2 separate regions of the Homo sapiens genome follow, and region 1 is linked to region 2. A link means that fine-mapping ties the variant in region 2 to the expression of a gene that starts in the linked region. Tissue or cell type: whole blood. Region 2 holds a variant in brackets; the other region holds the start of a gene. All regions are shown on one strand. Distances are between the middles of the regions.

Evidence for each region. PIP is the estimated chance that this variant, and not a neighbour inherited with it, causes the effect.
Region 1: FAM81A starts here. The variant in region 2 is fine-mapped to the expression of FAM81A in whole blood (INTERVAL, PIP 0.96).

Annotation. Positions count from the first base shown.
Region 1 is chr15:59,432,520-59,443,423 of GRCh38, reverse strand. It overlaps FAM81A (family with sequence similarity 81 member A), which reads right to left and starts at 5,238. Exons shown (of 9, transcript NM_152450.3): 1 at 5,142-5,238. RefSeq lists a silencer at 5,011-5,540.
Region 2 is chr15:59,397,410-59,406,834 of GRCh38, reverse strand. It overlaps a transcript of FAM81A not described here and the pseudogene NSA2P4. Among named protein-coding and RNA genes, the nearest start is that of MYO1E, 29 kb to the right of the region's middle. RefSeq lists a silencer at 4,691-4,985 and enhancers at 6,470-6,549, 6,920-7,259, 7,400-7,509. The variant G/AATGAACTAG (reference allele first, on the strand shown) is at 3,788.

The DNA of each region.
Region 1 (10,904 bases), 36 kb before region 2:
GATCCTGGACCAGAAAACATCTTTTTTTTAAAAGATCTTTTTGGCCAGGTGCAGTGGCTCATACCCATAATCCCAGCATTTTGGGAGGCCAAGGCAGGCAGATCACCTGAGGTCAGGAGTTCAAGACCAGCCTGGCCAACGTGGTGAAACACTGTCTCTACAAAATTACAAAAGTTAGCCAGGCATGATGGTGGGTGCCTGTAATCCCAGCTACTCGGGAGGCTGAGGCAGGAGAATTGCTTGAACCAGGGAGGCGGAGGCTGCAGTGAGCCGAGATTGTGCCATTGCGTTCCGCCCTGGGCAACCGAGCAAGACTCCATTTCAAAAACAAAATAAAACAATAAAGATCTTTTTTTCTCCTCTTTTGCCATGAAGGACATTATTAGGTCAATAGATGATACATGAATAAGGCCTGTTGATTAGATAATAGCTCTTAATGCTAATTTTCTGATTTTGGCACTTATACAAGAAAATGTCCTTTTTAAAAGGAAATATACACGAGTATTTAGGTGGACAAAGGTGTATCATGTCTACAACTCACTCTAAAATGGTTCAGGGAAAATGACAACATATGCACTTGTGTGTGTGTATACATATGTGTGTTCATACATATGTGTGTGAATAAACACACAGATACACAGACACACAGAGAGAGAATGAGAGAATAGGATAGAGCGAGAAAGGTAAAACAAGTGTGGTAAAAATTAATATTTAGAGAATTTGGTTGAAAGGTATGTTGGGAATTATTTTAATTATTGCGACTTTTCTTTTTCTTTTCTTTTCTTTTTTTTTTTTTTTTTTTTTTGAGAGACGGAGTCTCGCTCTGTCGCCCAGGCTGGAGTGCAGTGGCGCGATCTCAGCTCACTGCAACCTCCACCTTCTGGGTTCAAGCAATTCTCCTGCCTCAGCCTCCTGAGTAGCTGGGATTACAGGCGCTCACCACCATGCCCAGCTAATTTTTGTATTTTTTTAGTAGAGATGGGGTTTCACTATATGTTAGCCAGGCTGGTCTGGAACTCCTGACCTCAGGTGATACACCCGCCTTGGCCTCCCAAAGTGCTGGGATTACAAGCATGAGCCACTGTACCTGGCCAGTTATTGCAACTTTTCTATAAATTTGAATTATTCAAAGTAAAAGGTTTAAAAAGGGGAAAAATGATTACAGAAGCCAGGAAGACAAGGTAGAGACAAAGCAGTCAGGCTTCTGAGTATTACATTCTGAGTGAAATGTGGGCAACAGCTCAGGGCCCAAAATATAGATTTGAAGTACCTGGGGGCCCTGGGTAAACAGGGTTAAAAGTGGGGCTCTAAGGTCAGACTGGTGGAGTCCCTTTCCCAGGTCTGCTCCTTGAAAGCAGTGTTTTCTTTAAGTTATTCAAATCTCCCTCCATTTCAATTTCTGCACCTACATAACGGGAGTAATCAGAGTCTCTGCCTCACAGAGTTGGAGTGAGGATTAGAGGAAGTAGTACAAGTGGGCGAGGGCGCCCAGTGAGGCGCGGGGAAAGTGCCCAGTGCTCTTTAAATACTACTGCGGGCTCAGAGGTGAGGCTGGGGCAGGGGGAAGGGAGGAGGAAAAGGAAAGGAAAGACCAAGGACAGGATCTCACAGCATCCCCGTGTCTACATGCCAGGAAGAAAAAGGAAACAAATGAGGTTCGAGTGGGCCTGGACAACCAGTGTCATGGAGACAGGGAGATACAGAGGCGCAAAGGGCTGACTGCTGCCAGGAGACGCAGGGCAGGGACCAAGGAAGGGAAAGCCAGGGCAAAGGCCTCAGATCTGCAGCCAGGACACCTATGCCAGAGCCCTCTGAGGAAGCAGTTTCAACAGAAAGATGAGGGTGAAACCAGAATAGGTGAGTGGACAAAGAAGAGAACCTGAGGACAGTTCAACAGAGTAGCAGGGTCAAAAACAGTGCTACCCCATACGATAGCCATTGGCCCTATGTGACTACTTCAATTGGATTTAAGTTAGTTTAGAATTTACTAAAATGGAAAACTTGGTTCCTCAGTCATACTAGCCACACTTCGTGTGCTTAAGAGCCACATGTGGGCAGTGACTACCATACGGAACAGTGCAGATATAAAATATTTTTCTCACCGCAGAAAATTCTACTGGACAGAGCGAGGACCCCACCAGAGTTTCTTATGGGAAGGATGACCCATATGGTGGAGTAAGGGTTGGGGCAGAGTAGGGAAGGACCAAAGACACTGGAGAAGAGGAATAACAAATGCAGCCAGTTCCCAAAAGAGGTGAGAAGGAAGGAATCAAGTCCAGAGAATGAAGAGTGTGGATTGCATGTGGATTAACCTTGGGGAAGGGACTTGTAGACATTTTCTTCCTTTGAGAAAGACGAAATAAAGAAGGACAAAGAGAGGAAGAGAAAGATGCTTGGGGGCCTTGAGGAAGGTAAAGTGGGAATTTATCTGGTGAAATTAGAGCCAACGTAAATTTTCAATGGAACCTGTCCAAAGGTCTTTGTGACTTCCTCCTAGATAATGTGGCAGGCTGGGAGAAGAATAAGCAGGCAAGCGGGGGTGATTTTGGATTGAGGACTGAAATATAAGAAGCCCAACACATTGAAACAAAGGATTCTGGGATCCCAGACAGAATGGAAATGGCCAGCAACTTACATGCCCCAAGTGGAGAAACAGAGTCACAGAGGGGCTGAAGGATTGGAACAGCAAGTGCTTAAGGGACCAGGGTCCTCAGCGATGGTTAAAATCCAGAGCAGTATGTGGGTAGTATCAGCTAAGTAGGCTGAAGTCCGAGTTCAAGATCTCAAAGGTTTAGTCTTGTTCAAGACTGAACAAGTCCAAGATGTTAGTTGAAGCAAAGTGGAAACTGAGGCTACTGGGATAGATGTTGAGGAACTTCAAGGTCAAAGAATTAAGAGAGCTTCAACACAAAACCCAAAGTCACTGGCAAGAGACAAAGCAGAGAAGAGAATGAAGCTGGCTGCTCACGTTTTTTGTTTGTTTATCCCTTTTTTGGGGCATCAAGTGAAGAGATCCCCACTGTACCTGGGTGTACATCAGAATTGCCCAGAGAGTTCTGTTCCTTCTCTTCATCGTCTCCTGCTGCTCCTCCTTTTGGGGTTTGTTTTTAAAGTAGGGATTTTTAGGTCTTACTCCCCCACCCTGCCCCAGCCCCCAATGATTCTAATTTGGTATATCTGAGAGAGTCTAAAGACCAAGTTTTTCAAAATGTCCCAGGTGATTCTGAGGAGCCCCCAGGTTTGGGAAGCACTGGACCAGAAGATAAGAAGGAGGGTAGGGGCACAAGCAGATAGCACTACCTTCCGAGAGGAGACTTGGTTGGTGATGGTGCATTGGTTTGGAGGCAGCACTAAGGAGAAGCGGAAGAGCATCCCTACTCTGGTGAGACGGTGGAGGACACTAGAGAAGGCTCTTCTGCGGCAAGTTGTTCACTCAGGCTCTGGTGCTCGGGAGAGAAGGTGGGTTCAGCTACATAAAAAATGAAAATGCAAGAGTGTGGCTGCAGGATACAAGAAACAAGACATTTAAAGCCAGGTCGGAGTGACACAGCCTAGTGGCCTGCAGAGAGAGGAGGCTGAATAATGCGCTAATAACGTTTCCAAGCACCATGTAGTGTGGCTCATTAAATGGTTGGTAGGGCTTCATGGTTGAATTCCTGGACACTAAGTATTTTTCTATCCGTATGCTATCAGATTTCTAACATGTAACACATTAAAGGTTATTAAGCCCTCAGGTAAACAAGCTTGCAGAAGCTTATTCATTAGCATTGGAAACTGTGTCTTCCCAACCCACGTTCTTATACAGATGAAATCAGATTCGAATGAAAATCAAGGGTAGCTTTAAGTAGAAAGTCAGAAGGGGCAACCAGGGGTACCTGTGAGAGGGTACGTCCTCCATTCCCCTCCGTGGAAGAGGGAAGTTTATAGACAGTGGATATGGAAGGGGGCCTAAGTGTCCTTTTTAGTACCAGTCAACGCTAAAAATATTATAAGTGCCAAGGAACCCGCCCCCCCCAACACACACACACACACATACACACACGCGCATTCAGTGACAGGGCCCAGAAGGCAGATACAATGTGCAAATCTGGGGATGGTTCTCAATAAAGAATATATTTACTCTACAAACCTCTTATTTTAAAAGCAAGTTGCAAATGTTTGCCCTTGCTTCTGAGAGAGCTGCACTTTTGTGGATTCGAATCATTCTAGCATTATTTCTGGTTACTCCTATGAAATAATTTCCAACACTGCCGTACGCAGACTTTGAGCTGAGGACGAGAGCGCACGCGCACACACGCACACACACACACGCGCGCACACACACACATAAACCTCGTGCACATTGAAGAAATGACTCACTTAATTTGCTGCTGCCTGCCACGATTGGGTTTTGATTTTACCTGTTCAAATACAAAGTTTCCTATTAGATTAACTACAGGAAAGAAGAACTTAGGAGCATTAATCCTGATTTTGTTCATGTCTTTAGGGCACCAAAGAGGTTTTAACCTGTGCATCTTAAGAAGCCATTCTCCGGACCACCGACTGCTTGCTCCATAATCTTCCAGACAACGATAACATTTCTTACCACTTTAGGAGCCAATTAATGGAAACCCCTCCTAGAATAAACATGGTTAAGCTTTGCATCTCCGGTACCTGCAGAACCGTACTTTAGGGCTCTTTCTCAGCTCGCAGTAGGATGGCACAACAGCATTCTGGAACTGCAAAGACCCCCTAGCCTCTCGTTTGAAAGATGAGAAAAAGCGAAGGGGCGGAAGAGCAGATGGTTAACCTACCCAAGGTCACTCACTCTGAGTAGTGGGTCGGCTGACTCGCCTTTACCCCTGGCAATCCGTGCACCACCCCAGCTCCCCCAAACAGTCCCTCCGGGCGTCGGTTGGTTCGCTAGCATGCAGCCCCCGCGAAAATGCAACGCCAGTTGCGCTCTGTGCCCAACTTCAGCCCTTCGCGTCACATGCAGTTAACCCTCTCGCCCGCGGCATGTCACATGGGCCACGCGCAGCTCTCTCTACCCCACGCCTATCTCCTGAGAGGCTGCCCCAAGGTCACCGGCCGTCCCAGAGAGCTCCCGCCGCCCAGCCCCAGAGGCCGCCCGGCCGGGGTTCCCAGAGCGCGGCACTCACCGGCGCGGGGGGTGGGCGCGCCGCGGCTGCCCATGTCCTCGCCGGCGCGGCTGGGTGCGGCGGCCGCTGGCGCTGGCTGAGCAGGGCGCCCGGCTGCGGGCCCGCGCCGCGGGGAGCGCCGTCCAATCAGCGCGCGCCTGCCGCCTGGCCCGGCGCGCGGCCCGGCCGGGTTCGCGGCTCCCGGGGGGCGCGAGCCGCCGCGCGCCGCCGGAGCCGCTTCCGGGCGCGTTGCCTGGACGCGGTTGCCGTGGCAGCCCGAGCTGGAGGCTTTCCCCGCGCACCCGCGCCCAGCCTGGCGGCGCCGCCCCTCCTCCCTCCTCGTTCCCACACCCAAAATAGCCTCTGCTCGTCGCTGCTGTTTCCCACAGAGCTCGCATCCAAGCGCCTTGGAGTTGGCGGGCGGGGATTTCGCTCATTGGAAAATAAATCCTGTTGTAGGGATGGTTGATTTGGAGAGGTGTTGAAATGGTGCCTGACGGAGATCATAGCCATGGTGGTGGCACTGCAATTCTCTCTAGAGCCCCAATATACCTTATTTACTAAACCGCTTTCCCACAAAAATAGTTCTCTCCCCCGCCCCACCTCAAATTGGGGAGAAGTTATTTGATTAGGCCACGGTGACGCCCCACCTGTGCAGGTGAACGAACCCTCCGGGGCTGCCATGTGTCATTTACTGAATCGCCTTGACACCTGCAGTTGGGACCCAGGATCGTGTCTCATCGCAGCAGACACGACGAGAAGAAGAACCCCGAACACCCCTCCTCTTCCCAGCCCTTTCTTCTCCCGTCAGCTTCATCCCCTCCCAGCGCGTCCTGGCTCTTTCCACCTTCCTCTCGATTTTGGATTCTCATCAGGACGCACAAGCCCATTCACTCATAATTGTGCTTCCTCTCGGTGGGCAGGATTTCAGCGGAGTTGCGGGGGACACGACCTTTGCCTCATCTGGTTCGTGCCTCCTTCGCAGATACTGGTACTTACCCAGCACAGGGGCTCCTGTCTGTCTCCCCCACCCCGCCCCAGCCTGAGCCCTTCCAACCCAGGGGAAGGAGCCCGACATGGTAGAAGAGCCCGAACTGTGGATTCGGCTGAGCGGTTTTGGAATTCTCTCTCCGGCAGCATTATTATTTAGGGGCTATTAGTATTAAGGACTGTTATTTGTGTGTGATCTTTGAAATATTTGTGGGTATTCTGCGACTGTTTCCTCACCAGTAAAACGGGCTAATAACTTCCACAAAGCGCTAACGCATCTGTAACATTCATTCAGCCAACAGTATCTATTGGATGGCTGCCAAGTGCTAGAAACTATGCTTAGCCCTGAGACACAATGGTGAAGATGAAAAAGAGACACATCACTTTCTGATCCCACAGAGCTTAGAGCCTGACGAGCATTCATCAAATAATCACAGACACATGTTAACACTGCCGTTGTGACCAGGAGAGTAATGGCCTTGAGTCTTGTGATGTGTAGATCTGGTATAACAGCATCTCTTTAGTGCTGCAAAAGCTCAATGATTATTCTTTCCTTTCTCGGTTAGATTCCCACTGCCTGGTGCATGGTATGTACTAGGTAAATACATATTGAATTGGATCCTATGTCATGGTGATGACACTGTCACTCTGCTTCCCAGTGACCTTCTGGCTGTAACTGGCCACAACATCTGGAAAGGTGTGCATGTGTTAGCAGAAAGTACCCATTCAAACCTAGAGTCCATCACCAAGAGTCTAGAAAAAGGTTCAAAATATTTCTTGCCTGTCTCCATCGGGGTGCCTTTCAGTGCATATGGAGAGCATCTCAGATGGACACATAACGTCCCCTCTGTCTTGTTTCTTCCTCTTCTTATTACTCTACCCTTTCCCCGCCCACCCCAATACTGACCCTACTCCCTCTACTACTTGAGGTGCCAGAGCCTCAAGGCACCCCTTCCTGGCTTCCTAGGAGAGTGATAGTAGATCCTAATATTCCTCAGAATGGAACACCTATAAAACAGAGGAAGTGCCTTCTTACTTCTGGCCATCAAAACTGAACTTTGATTTTTCATTTGCTGCAAGACTCCCTCACTCTCAAAGGTAGGGAAGGAGAGGACCTGGAAGGTGAGGGGCTCTTGCCATATGTAGGCACCTTCTATTTAGGCTGACTTTCATTTCCTTTTTAAAAATCATAACAGTTAGCAAATAAGACAAATAATTGTATTAATAATTATTTCAAAACATGAATTTCTCAGTAAGAACCGGGCTTTCAAAGTGGTCTTGAATCAGGCCCATGACTTCCCACTTCTTATTTATCTTTTTTCTTAAGTGATTTGTTTTGAATCCCAAGGGGACAAAATTTAATGCACAATGATTAAGCCTACACTAGTTTCTTTCCAACTCTTTCCCTATTTTTGTAGGCTAAATTGCAACGAAATATCCATTTTTTCCAGAATCACTTTGATTGTAACTCATTACAGGAGATGGAGATTTTCTTGCATTACTTCAATTAAAAAGCCATGATTTATCACAAATTATTTTATGCTGCAAGGATTACCAAAAAAATTATCAAAGAGAACAATTCTATATACTTGATGGCTGTAATACTATTTACAAAGCAGTTATTTAAATACAAATAATTTGTTCAGTATATTATGCTAGACACCATGGAAATTCATTTTTCTTCTTTCTTTTGAGACAGAGTCTCACTCTGTCACCCAGGCTAGAATGCAGAGGCTCTCGATCTTGGCTCACTGCAACCTCTGCCTCCTGGGTTCAGGTGATTCTCCTGTCTCAGCTTCCCGAGTAGCTGGGACTACAGACGTACGCCACCATGCCCAGCTAACTTTTTTATTTTTAGTAGAGAGGGGGTTTTGCCATGTTGGCCAGGCTGGTCTCGAACTCCTGACCTCAGGTGATCCGCCGGCCTCGGCATCCCCAGGTGCTGGGATTACAGGTGTGAACCACTGCACCCAGTCCACTGTGGGAATTTTTTTGTTTTGCTTTGTTTGTTTGCTTGTTTGTTTGTTTGAGACGGAGTCTTGCTCTGTCGCCAGGCTGGAGTGCAGTGGCGTGATCTCGGCTCACTGCAACCTCTGCCTCCCGGGTTCAAGCAATTCTCCCGCCTCAGCCTCCCGAGGAGCTGGGACTACAAACATGCACCACCACGCCCAGCTAATTTTTGTATTTTTAGTAGAGATGGGGTCTTGTCATGTTGGCCAGGATGGCCTCCATCTCTTAACCTCGTGATCCACCTGCCTCAGCCTCCCAAAGTGCTGGGATTACAGGCATAAGCCACCAAGCCCGGCTGAAATTGTTTAAGTGATTTATTCCACGGCTGAGCTCTGGTTCTACTTTTGTCTCTGCACTGCCATTAGTCATGAAGATGAGATACACACGACATCTATAAGGATAGTAAGTAGGCTCCTCTAGGTAGGTAGAGGTCAAGGGCTTGTGTAGGTCAACGTGGTGTTTATAAGAAGGCTGGAAAGCAGTTGGGCCAAGGCTGTGGTGAGTTTCAGATGGATAAAGAGTTAGCACTTTGTTTTGTCCTCAGCAATTCTCAACCGTGGTTTGTCGAGATCCATTGGGAGGAGTGTTACACGTTGTTCATTCTCAATAATAGAGTGCCAAAGAATTTGACCACAAGGAACAGTCATATGTAGGAACTAGCAGGAGAAAGAAGGTTCCCACAGGGAGCAATGAGGAAGACCCAGAGATGTAAGAGTGAGGACAGTGTCAGAGAAGACACAGATGAGAAGGCTCAAGGGCAGAAAGTTTCCAGGGGACAAGTCCTGCAGAAAGCCAAGAAAATTTAGTGAATAGAAAGTCACTGGTGACCCTCAGGAGTGTTTTTTAGTTATCAGATTGCTGTGGGTTAAGAAAAGACTGGATGCTGTAGAAATGCAAGAAAGGTGTAGGTCACTCTTTAGAGAAGTTCGGCAGTGTAAAGAAGGTGAGAAATAATATCCATAGAGATCTGTAGTGGCCAGTGGATGTTTTTAAGATAAGGGAAAATAGTCTCTGCATATTTATATACAGTTGTAGGGCTGCAGACAAGGAGAGCACAATGCATCGTTTTGCACTGAGTAACTCAATCTAAATTCTACCATTCCTTTCATTATTGCCATATCCATTTTCCTTTTCAAAAATGTTTCATCGGGCCAGTTACGGTGCCTCACACCTGTAATCCCAGCACTTTGGGAGGCCTAGATGGGCAGATAGCTTGAGGCTAGGAGTTCAAGACCAGCCTGGCCAACATGGCGAAACCCGTCTCTACTAAAAATGCAAAAGCTAGCCGGGCATGGTGGCAGGTGCCTGTAATCCCAGCTACTCGGGACACTGAGACACGAGAATTTTTCAAACCTGGGAGGCAGAGGGTGTAGTGAGCCTAGATCGCGCCACTGTACTTCAGCCTGGGTGACAGAGTGAGACTCAAAAGGTCCCAAAGGTATTATGTCTCAAAAATAAAATGTTTCACCGAATAAGAGAAATCTTACATTGAACAAAGGTGGGGTTCAGACCTTGGGACGTTATTCTGTGAATAACCAACTAAAAACTTGGGTTAATAACCAATTAACACAATACGTCACTCTTTATGGCTGTTCTTTATCGGTTTCTTTGTTGCTAATAGTAAAATAGAATTAAGAAAATTCCTTTTTTCCTCTTTTATTTATAGAAATTATAGATTTTTCATACGTTTTGAATAAACTACAATTGGCTCTGTTGTTTTTGCTAGTAATTTTTCTTCATGTATAGGCTCATTCTCTCAAATATTATGTTTTGCTTATGAATTCATTGGTGGCTAATCCATCTCGCAATAATGTTTTTGAAGTAGTTATGCCTAAAGTACAACCAGCAGAGAAAGCACAAAATATTGAGAAGATCCTTTTAATAATGTTTACGTCTTAACTTAGATAATTGCAGTTGTACATAACAGGGAAAGTTCAGCCTCAGGGTGTATTTATATAGCATACAAGTGAGCCCTCAACATAACACTTTCAAGAGTGAAATCTGAAATAAAGAAGTCTTTCTACAAAGAGTTTGTGGCCAGAAATCCTAAAATAGCCTGACCTCATGATCCATCCACCTCGGCCTCCCAAAGTGCTGGGATTACAGGCGTGAGTCACTGCACCCAGCCCAATTTTGATTTTTTTTTTTTTTTTTTTTTTTTTTGAGACGGAGTCTCGCTCTGTGCCCAGGCTGGAGCGCAGTGGCGCGATCTTGGCTCACTGCAAATTCCACCTCCCGAGTTCACACCATTCTCCTGCCTCAGCCTCCCGAGTAGCTGGGACTACAGGCACCCACCACCATGCCCAGCTAATTTTTTGTATTTTTTTTTTTTAATAGAGACGGGGTTTCACCGTGTTAGGGAGGATGGTCTCGATCTCCTGACCTCGTGATCTGCCCACCTCAGCCTCCCAAAGTGCTGGGATTACAGGCGTGAGCCACCATGCCCGGCCTGATTTTTTAAATATTGCATTAAAATACTATTTATCTTGATCATTGAGTTTGCCTTAAATGTCGCACCTTAAATTTTGCCTCACTCACCTCCCCTCAGCCCTGGCCCTGTTGCAATCATAGCCAATGTTTATGTCAGACCCTGTGCTAAATGCTTACTTGTAGTACTTTATTTCTTTTTTGCAACAGCTTATGAATAAACTTAGGCTTAGAGGTATTATGTAACTTGTCCAAGGTCCCAAAGCTATTAAGTTCTAGAGCTAGAATTTGAACTTGGGCCCCTCTGATGTCACAGCTGTGCCTTGTAGGTACCAGGTGCAAGATTGCCGCATAAAA
Region 2 (9,425 bases):
TGCTAAGCCAGTGCACACCTCTGAACTGAATGTTGAGAACTGAGCTGAACAGTCTTCACAAAACAAATGCAGCTTGTAGTAAAAGATCGTGCAGGATGATTTCATTTCTCTATAAACAGCAAATTTATAGAGACAGAAAGTAGATCAGCGGTTGCCTAGAGCTGGGGGTAGGAGTGGGTATGAACCGAAAATGGACATGAGGAAACATTTTGGGGTAGTGGAAATGTTCTAAAACTGGATTGTGGTGATGGTTGCACAACTCTGCAAACTTACTAAAATTATCAAATTGTACACTTAAAGTGGGTGAACTTTATGATATATAAATTTGCCTTAATAAAGCTGATGTTGTTTTAAAGTTAGTGTAGGTAACTGATTTAAATTGGTATGCCAAATAGCACTGGTTAGTATCTACTTTAGGATCCTGACTCCACTGCTCGCAAACCATGTGAACTGAAATAAATGATTTCACATCCCCCAGCCTCAATCTCCTCATCTGTAAGTGGGTGATGATAGTGCGTATCTCATAAAGCAGAGTGCCAGTTAAATGAGATAACTTACAGATTCTTAATGCATTTTATTTTACCTTAGAAATTAGAATGTGAGAAGGTAGGCAGGTGTCAGTGTTTATCCTTTCTTGGCTTGGGGAGGGGAGGTCATTCTGAATTTTTCAATGAGAATGATCTGGAAGGCACATGCTCTAGCACTGTCTTTCAGACTCTCAGACCCACCCATTCCCCTGTGCCCAGTGGTTTCACATTTCCAGTCTTCGTTTCCAGGGGCCTTGGACATTGACAGCCACCTCTTTCTGGGTCGAGTTGCAAGGATAAAAGGAATAGTATTTGTTATCAGGCAGAAGGAGCGAGTGGCAGACTGCAGGAGCTCCAGGACCCTAGGTGACTGACTGTTCCAGACTGGCTGCCCTAGGAGACGCTCTAAGGCAGACATAATCGGGACAACTGAATGTGCAACATGGGTCCCTGATGCCCAGGTAAGCCCAGAAAAGTCAAGGCTGACTATTGGGAGCAAAATGAGATAACTCAAAAGTAGCAGTGTGGGAGAAAGAGGGATGGGCCCAAGGCCAGTAAGAGGGTTTGTTCTCTCCTTGTGTGTGGAGTGCACTTATGCTGAAGTTTTTAGGGACATGGGATGGACAGGATGAAGTAGTAGCAATTATTATCATTATTCTTTTTTTTTGAGATGAAGTCTCACTCTGTCGCCCAGGCTGGTGTGCAGTGGCGTGATCTCGGCTCACTGCAGCCCCTGCCTCCAGGGTTCAAGCGATCCTCCCCCATCAGCCTCCCAAGTAGCTGGGATTACAGGCATGCACCACCATGCTCAGCTAATTTTCATCTTTTTAGTACAGACGGGGTTTTGCCATGTTGTCCTGGCTGGTCTCGAACTCCTGACCTTAAGAGATCCACCCGCCTCAGCCTCCTAAAGTGCTGGGATTCCAGGTGTGAGCCACAGAGCCCGGTCTAATTCTTAGCGGAAAGAGGCATACGGTTGTATTCTTTGTACCCTCCCAAACCCCTCCCACTCTGTTCTTGGCAGGCCTGTTCATTCATTCATCCCACATACATTACCAAATTCCTGCTCTCACAGACCTTATATTGTAGTGGAAGACAGATCATAAAGAAATAATCAAATGACTCTATAACCTAACTGCTAACAAGGAAAGGATGTGCAGGAGGCGAGATGGCTTAGACTGAGTGGTCAGGGAAGACCTCTCTGAGGAAGTTACATGTTAGCAGGGCTTTGAGGGAGCAAAAGAAACAAAGCTTGGAAGAAAGAGCACTCTTGGCAGACAGAAGAGAGCATGCAAAGGCCCTGGGTTTGGTGTCAGCTCTGTGTGTTCAAAGAGCACAAAGAAGCCAGTGTAGCTGGGACAGAGTGAGATGGAAGCAGGGTGGTAGGAGATTATTTCAGGGTGATGGTTAGGGCCCAGACCTACTAGCTTTACTGGCCATGAGAAACACATGGATTTCATTTCAGATGTGTTGAAAAGCCATTGGAAGAGTTTTGAACAGTATAGCAAGTGATCTGATCTTGAGGTTATTCCAGCTGTTGTGAAGAATATGAGCTGGGCATGGTGGCTAATGCCTACAATTCCAGCACTTTGGGAGGCCAAGGTGGGAGGACCACTTGAGGCCAGGGGCTGGAGGCCAGCCTGAGCAACATAGTGAGACTCCATCTCTACAAAAACTACAAAAATGAGGTGGGTGTAGTGGTGCATATGTGTCGTCTCAATCAGGAGGCTGAGGTAGGAGGACGGCTTGAGCCCAGGAGTTGGAGGCTACAGTGAGCTATGGTCGCTCCACTGCTCTCCAGCCTGGGCAACAGAGCGAGACTGTGTCTCTAAAAAAAAACAAAGAATGTATAGAAACTTTCTCACCAAACTGCTACAGGATTCCACACCAAAGTGAACAGCCTTTCTACCTGAGAAAGTCTCATGGCCTTGTCTAAGGTGGGAAGAAATATGGGCTATGGACTCTGACTTGCTGGAATGAGGAGATGGGTCTCTCCTCCCATTTTCTCTTCCTGATGGATCTTCTCTTTCCCACTTAGGCCTCGTGTATAGGTGTGTCTCCCTCTCCTTTTTTGCCCTGAGAATCAATGGGTTTGTTTGTAGAGGTTTACCTTTAGAAACAATTCAGGCCGGGCATGGTGGTTCAGGCCTGTAATCCCAGCACTTTTGGGAGGCCGAGGCGGGCGAATCATGAGGTCAAGAGATCGAGACCATCCTGGCCAACATGGTGAAACCCCGTCTCTACTAAAAATACAAAAACTAGCCAGCTATGGTGGCGCACGCCTGTAGTCCCAGCTACTCAGAGGCTAAGGCAGGAGAATCGCTTGAACCCAGGAGGCAGAGGTTGCAGTGAGCCGAGATCACTCTACTGCACTCCAGCCTGGGTGACAGAGTGAGACTCTGTCTCAAAAAAAAAAAAAAGAAAAGAAAAGAAACAATTTGGTCCCCATCAATTCTCTGATATTGAGTCTTGAAAACACTGAAAAAAAATGTTTATTAAGATTTGGAAGAAATTTGCAATTTAAAGTATTTTAACTGAAAAGAAATCAATTACCTCCCTGTGTGCCATGAATGCTAATTCTCTTTGTTTTTTTAAAACATCTCTTCAACTCTAACCAGATCTCCACTGCCTAAATTGAAAGAAGACCCTAGGTAAGGCTTTCTAGCCAGAGATAACACTTCCATAAAATAACCAGAGGAACTAGGGCATAGAGAGGCTGTACTCATCTGCTTCGGCTGCCATAACAGTGTCAGGGTGTCTTAAGCAACATAAATGTATATTCTCCCAGTTCGAGGCTGGAAGTCCAAGACCAAGGTGCCAGTGGGATTGGGTTCTGACGAGACCCCTCTCCCCTGCTTGCAGACAGCCACCTTCTCACTGTGTCCTTGTGTGGCCTTTTCTCTGTCTATGCTTAGGAGTTGGGGGAGCTCGGATGTCTCTCTCTTCTTTTAAGAACACAAGTTCTATCTAATTAGGACTCCAATCTTATGGTCTCATTTAACCTTAATTTCCTCTTTAAATGCCGGATCTCCAAATACAGTCATATTGGGGGTTAGGGCTTCAACATATGAATGTGGGGGTGTGGGATGGGGGGGTAGCCCACTTCATAACCGAAGTTCTCAATAAATATTCAGTAAAGATATGGGTAAATGAATGGATTTCTCTGGACACCCTGAAACTATCAGAGACCTCTGATGGAGCATGAGGTAAAGACAGTGGCTCAGGCAGAGAAATTATAGACCCATGAACTAAATGAACTA[G/AATGAACTAG]AACCTATATAAATCAGTAGCGTTCCTCTACATCGGCAATAACCCACTAGAAAATGCAATAACAGGTAGGACTCAGTTCACTGTAGTAACAACAATCATAATATCTCAAATTTTACCTAACAAAGAATATATATATAAGACCCCTATGAAGATGATTTAGAAATGCTATTAAAGCATATTGTAAAAGGAATAGAGGCCGGGCGTGGTGGCTCACAGCTGTAATCCCAGCACTTTGGGAGGCCAAGGCAGGTGGATCACTTGAGGCCAGGAGTTCGAGACCAGCCTGGCTAACATGGTGAAACCCCATCTCTACTAAATATCCCCCCCACCCCCCAAAAAAATATCCAGGCTTGTTGGGACATGCTTGTAATCCCAGCTACTTGGGAGGCTGAGGCAGGAGAAACGCTTGAACCCGGGAAGCAGAGGTTGCAGTGAGCCAAAATCAAGCCACTGCCCTCCAACCTGGAAGACAGAGTGAGACGCTGTCTCGAAATAAAAATAAAATTAAATAATAATAATTTAAAATATCCTTCTAGCCAAGCCAAACACATGTAAGGGACTAAGTTGGCCTGTGAGCCACTAGTCTGTAACTCGTTGTGAGTATAATGGGCATGAGGCTTGTTCCTAAACGTTGGGGTGTGGGAGGCAGAAGAATACAAGCAGACTCTCCCCGTCCCACATGCTGTTACCTCTCCACCTCTCTGCAGGCAGCTTTCCTAAGGTCCTGGACCTTCAGATCCTTGCTGGAGTTGAAGGCAGAAATGTTCTGGATCTGCAAAACAGTTAAGGGATATTAAGGAATATTAAGATAGCCACCCCCAAAACTAGGGCATCCTCCTAACATTATCCACGGCTGATCAGTAACACGTGGGATAGAAATTTGAGTTTATTACTTTATAGCAGTATAAAGCAATAGCAAAGTTAATATAAAATCACTCTCCTGTCAGGCCTGCACGGCGTCAGCTCATGGGTCTCTAAGACCCGAAAATTGAGAGCGTTTTTCGCACCCCAGGGGCTGCTCCTGGCAGCTCTGCGGCGTCAACATGCCACAGAACAAATATATTGAATTACACTGTAAACACCATGGATACTGTTTGGATTACCATGAGAAAAAGAGAAAGAAAGAAAGTCGAGAGGCTCATGAATGTTCAAAGAAGGCAAAGAAAATGATTGGTCTCAAGGCTAAGCCTTACCATAAACAGGGCCATGCTGAGAAAATACAAATAAAAAAGACTATCAAGATGCATGAAAAGAGAAACACCAAAAAAAAAAAAAAATGCTGAAAAGACTCCACAGGGAGCAGTACCTGCCTATCTGCTGGACAGAGAGGGACAATCTCGAGCTAAAGTACTTTCCAGTATGATCAAACAGAAACGAAAAGAGAAGGCGGGAAAATGGGAAGTCCCTCTGCCTAAAGTATGTGCCCAGGGAGAAACAGAAGTATTAAAAGTTATTCGAACAAGGAAGAGAAAGAAGAAGGCATGGAAGAGGGTGGTTACTAATGTCTGCTTTGTTCAAGATGGCTTTACAAGAATACCACCTAAGTATGAAAGATTCATCAGGCCAATGGGCTTGCGTTTCAAGAAAGCCCATGTAACATATCCTGAACTGAAAGTCACCTTTTGCCTACCAATATTTGGTGTAAAGAAGAACCCGTCGTCCCCACTGTATACAACTTTGGGTGTTATTACCAAAGGTACTGCCATGGAGGTAAATGTGAGCAAATTGGGCCTTGTGATGCAAGGCGGCAGTTATTTGGGGAAAATATGCCCAGGTTACCAACAATCCTGAAAATGATGGATGCATAAATGCAGTCTTACTGGTTCGACAGCAATTTCATATATAATTATTGAGGACTACGCACCAATTGAAAAAACTGCCATTACTGTGATGTTTCTGAATACTACCAAACAGCCATACATGTCTGCAATCATCAAGAGATTTATTAAATTGCAAACATTAAAATGGAAAAAAAATACAAAATCATTATAAAAATAATAATGCTTTAGGACTCTAACTTCAAACATTCCTCTTATCTGCAAAGGTTAGAAAAGATCACTTTCCCTTTAAATATGCAAAGAGAAAATGTTTCCAGAATTAATTTGAAACCTTTGTAGCCCTTTAGCTGGAAGAATCACCCTACTAAAAATGCATCAATAGAAACACTAATCAACCAGTGAATGTAAAATTATAAACCAACATGTGTATTAAGAGAAAGAAAAGTAGGGAATGTGCAAGGATTTTTAGTAGACTGGGAGTTTAGACTTCCCCCATGAAAGCAACCGGCACTGACAACAGAAAGAGACTGGGATTCACTGGGAGAAGAAAAGAGCATTGCAGCTTGGAACAGACCTAAGGCCGAAAGGAGGGCAGAGCATTGGCAAAAGTCAGCCAAGGAGGCTGGAGTGAAGGGAGCAGGGGAAGGAATGACGCCTGATGAAGCAGGAGGGGTGTGAACCTGAGTGATTAGAGCTGTGTAGACTGCAGTTAGCCACCCTAGGGTTTCAAGAGGTGGAGAAGGAGGATCATCATCAGCCTTATGCTGAAGATAATGACACTGGCTGTAGTGTGATTCATGGGGTAGGGGGGTCTGAGCCGGTGCGGGGCAACCAGACTTGCAACCACTGCTATGATCGGGAGAGGATGATAGTAGCTTGGGCTAGTGTGCGGGGTGCAGTGGACGTGGAGAGGAGTAAGCAGAAGTGCAAGCTATTGAGGAGGTAAATTTATCAGACCCGTGAGTGGCTGGATGTGGGCGGGGAGGGAGAGTCCATGCTTGGGCTGACTCCTGACTTTCTCGCTCTGGTATTGGGACGTGTGCAGACGCATTCCCCCAGACAGGAACACTGAAGAGGAATGAATTGGGGGGCAAGAGCATGAGTCAGTCTTGGACAACCTGACTTGGAGGTGCCTTTGCAATCTCTGAGTGAACCTCTGGCCTGTTTCCCAGTTCACAAATCCCTCACCTGTAACAGTTACGATAAAAATGGCAGGAAGTTAGCTCCTAGGTGTGGAGGAGCAGAAGAGAGACTCGGACGGGGACTCTCCATTTACCCCACCACCCTCCCTGGAGCCTCTCTGAAAGTTACTCACTGAAGATACTTTGTTTTTTGGTCTAGTTGAAGAAGGAGAAACTCAAATGTGTTCTGAAAAATAAGTATGGGGCTTTCTTAACAAGGCTATGGCATACTATCCACTCTTTCCCCTCCTGCCCTGGAGGGAGTGGCTGGCCACTCACACTAAACTTAGAGAATCAGCTGCAGCAGGAGGAAAGGAGGAGAGCCAGAACTCTGGGAACATTACCTGAGAATGAGGACTGGCCAGCGCCTCGCATAGGGAGAGAATTCTCCTGCCTCCTATCTTCAATCAGCCAGAGGAGCAACTTTCAGTTCCCCCATCACAGCACACTTCTTCATTCTTGTGGCCTCACATGTGCTGCCCCCTCACCAGAAACACCCTGCCCTTCCTCCTCTCGTACATCCCTTTCATCTGCATGGGTTCTTCAGCGTATTTTATTCAGTGCTCAGATACCATATCTTTCTGGAGGCCTTTTTTGATGTCTTACAGCTGGGTTCAATGTTTGTGGCAGAGACTGCTAATCGTCTACACATCCATTCTCTTGTCTTTTTTTCTTGGTACAAGAACCCCTAATATTGGGCTGAGCATAAAGTGCTTGGTATAAAGTCTACATTGTCCAATATCTTTTGCAGCTGGATGAGACCATTTGGCTAAGCTCTGGCTAGTAATGTGAAAGTGGAAATGTTTCCAGCTTCTGGGATATGATTTTATAGGGAGAAGACATGCCTTTCTTCCCCTTCCTCTATATGAATATGATGGCTGATTCTTTTTGTTCTTCTTTTTTGTTTTTGTTTTTGTTTTGAGATGGAGTCTCACTCTGTCACCCAAGCTGGAGTGCAGTGGTGTGATCTCGTCTTACCATAACCTCCGCCTCCCAGGTTCAAGTGATTCTTCTGCCTCAGCCTACCGAGTAGCTGGGATTACAGGCACACGCCACCACATCTGGATAACTTTTTGTATTTTTAGTAGAGACGGGGTTTCACCATGTTAGCCAGGATGGTCTCGATCTCCTGACCTCGTGATCCACCTGTCTTGGCCTCCCAAAGTGCTGGGATTACAGGCGTGAGCCATCATACCTGGCCGATAGCTGATTTTTTAGTCACTAGCTTGGACTAGGAAGACATAGACCACACCCTAGGGATGGTGAAGTTTTGCACTAGAAAGAGACTGGATTCATTTCCTTTTTTTTTTTTTTTTTTTTTTTTTTTTTCTGAGACAGAGTCTCACTCTGTTGCCCAGGCTGGAGTGCAGTGACGTGATCCTGGCTCACTGCAACCTCCACCTCCCAGGTTCAAGCAATTCTCTTGCCTCAGCCTCCTGAATAGCTGGGACTACAGGCATGTGCCACCAATCCCCAATAATTTTCTTTTTTTGATAGAGACTGGGTTTCACCATGTTGGTCAGGCTAGTCTCGAACTTGTAGCCTCAAGTGATCCACCTGCCTTGGCCTCCCAAAGTGCTGAGATTACAGGCATGAGCTGCCACACCTGGCCTGGATTCATGTTCTAATGACTTTATGGAGCTATTAGGTATTTTGCACTGTCTACCTCTTGCTTTCATTTGTGTAAAAGGGAAGTCAACTCCCATCCTGTGGAAGGCACTGTTATTTTGGTTACATGCAGAAAAACCTAATCCAAATTTACACAGTGTTCCTCCCATGTGTTTATTCCTATGAAAACACTTAGACCCTACATTACCAATTACTTACCTGAGTGAAAAAAAGTCTGTCCTGCCAGAGTTGACACTCTTCTTCTTATGCAGATGGCTCCAAAGATGTCCTCACCTAACATAACTCATATCTGCAAGTGTTCAGTAAGGAACCAGAAAGCCAGTTATCCAAAGGCAATGCTGTCAAACCACTTCAAATGTTGCTTTCTGGTCTCGGGCTTGATAGTCGCTAGGTGATGCTATGGTTAGGATTGTGCCCATTTCTCCTCCAGTGCAAGTTCTGTCTCTTGGATGGAATAGTCAGTTGATACCACCAATAAACCCGCAGAAAACAGGAAGACAAAAAAAAAGCACGTACAACAAACATCTTAAAAATTGTATCTCCTAGTCAACACATCCTGTGTTGTAGGATTTGGAAAACCATAAGTAATTTTAAAAACTCGGATGGTTTGGCATTTGGAATGTTGAAAGCAATCTGGAAAATCCCAATAGTCCATTTGTGTCTCTATCATTAGCTGAAGAAGCAAATGGTCAAGATGAATTTCAGTAGGATCAGAGGAGTGAGTGTATCCGGTGGATTGGCTCACACCTAGCACCATTATTGAGGTTGGTGATACACCCTTGAACAGACTCTGCCAATGAATCTGTGCTGATTAATTCACTTTTTTCCCCAGAACCTTTCCAAGGTCAAATATTGTTTATGATGGTGTTTTATATTTTTATACCAAGCGTTTCTGCCTTAATTGACTCATCTGTAATTGATAGTCTTCAAGTATGAGCCAAAATAATAATGGCCAAGAGATAGAAGCACATAACCTGGACAATATCTTAAAAGTCAGAAATTTTAAAAAATTCAAACATTATCAATATAATACTGTCCAAATATCTGGAC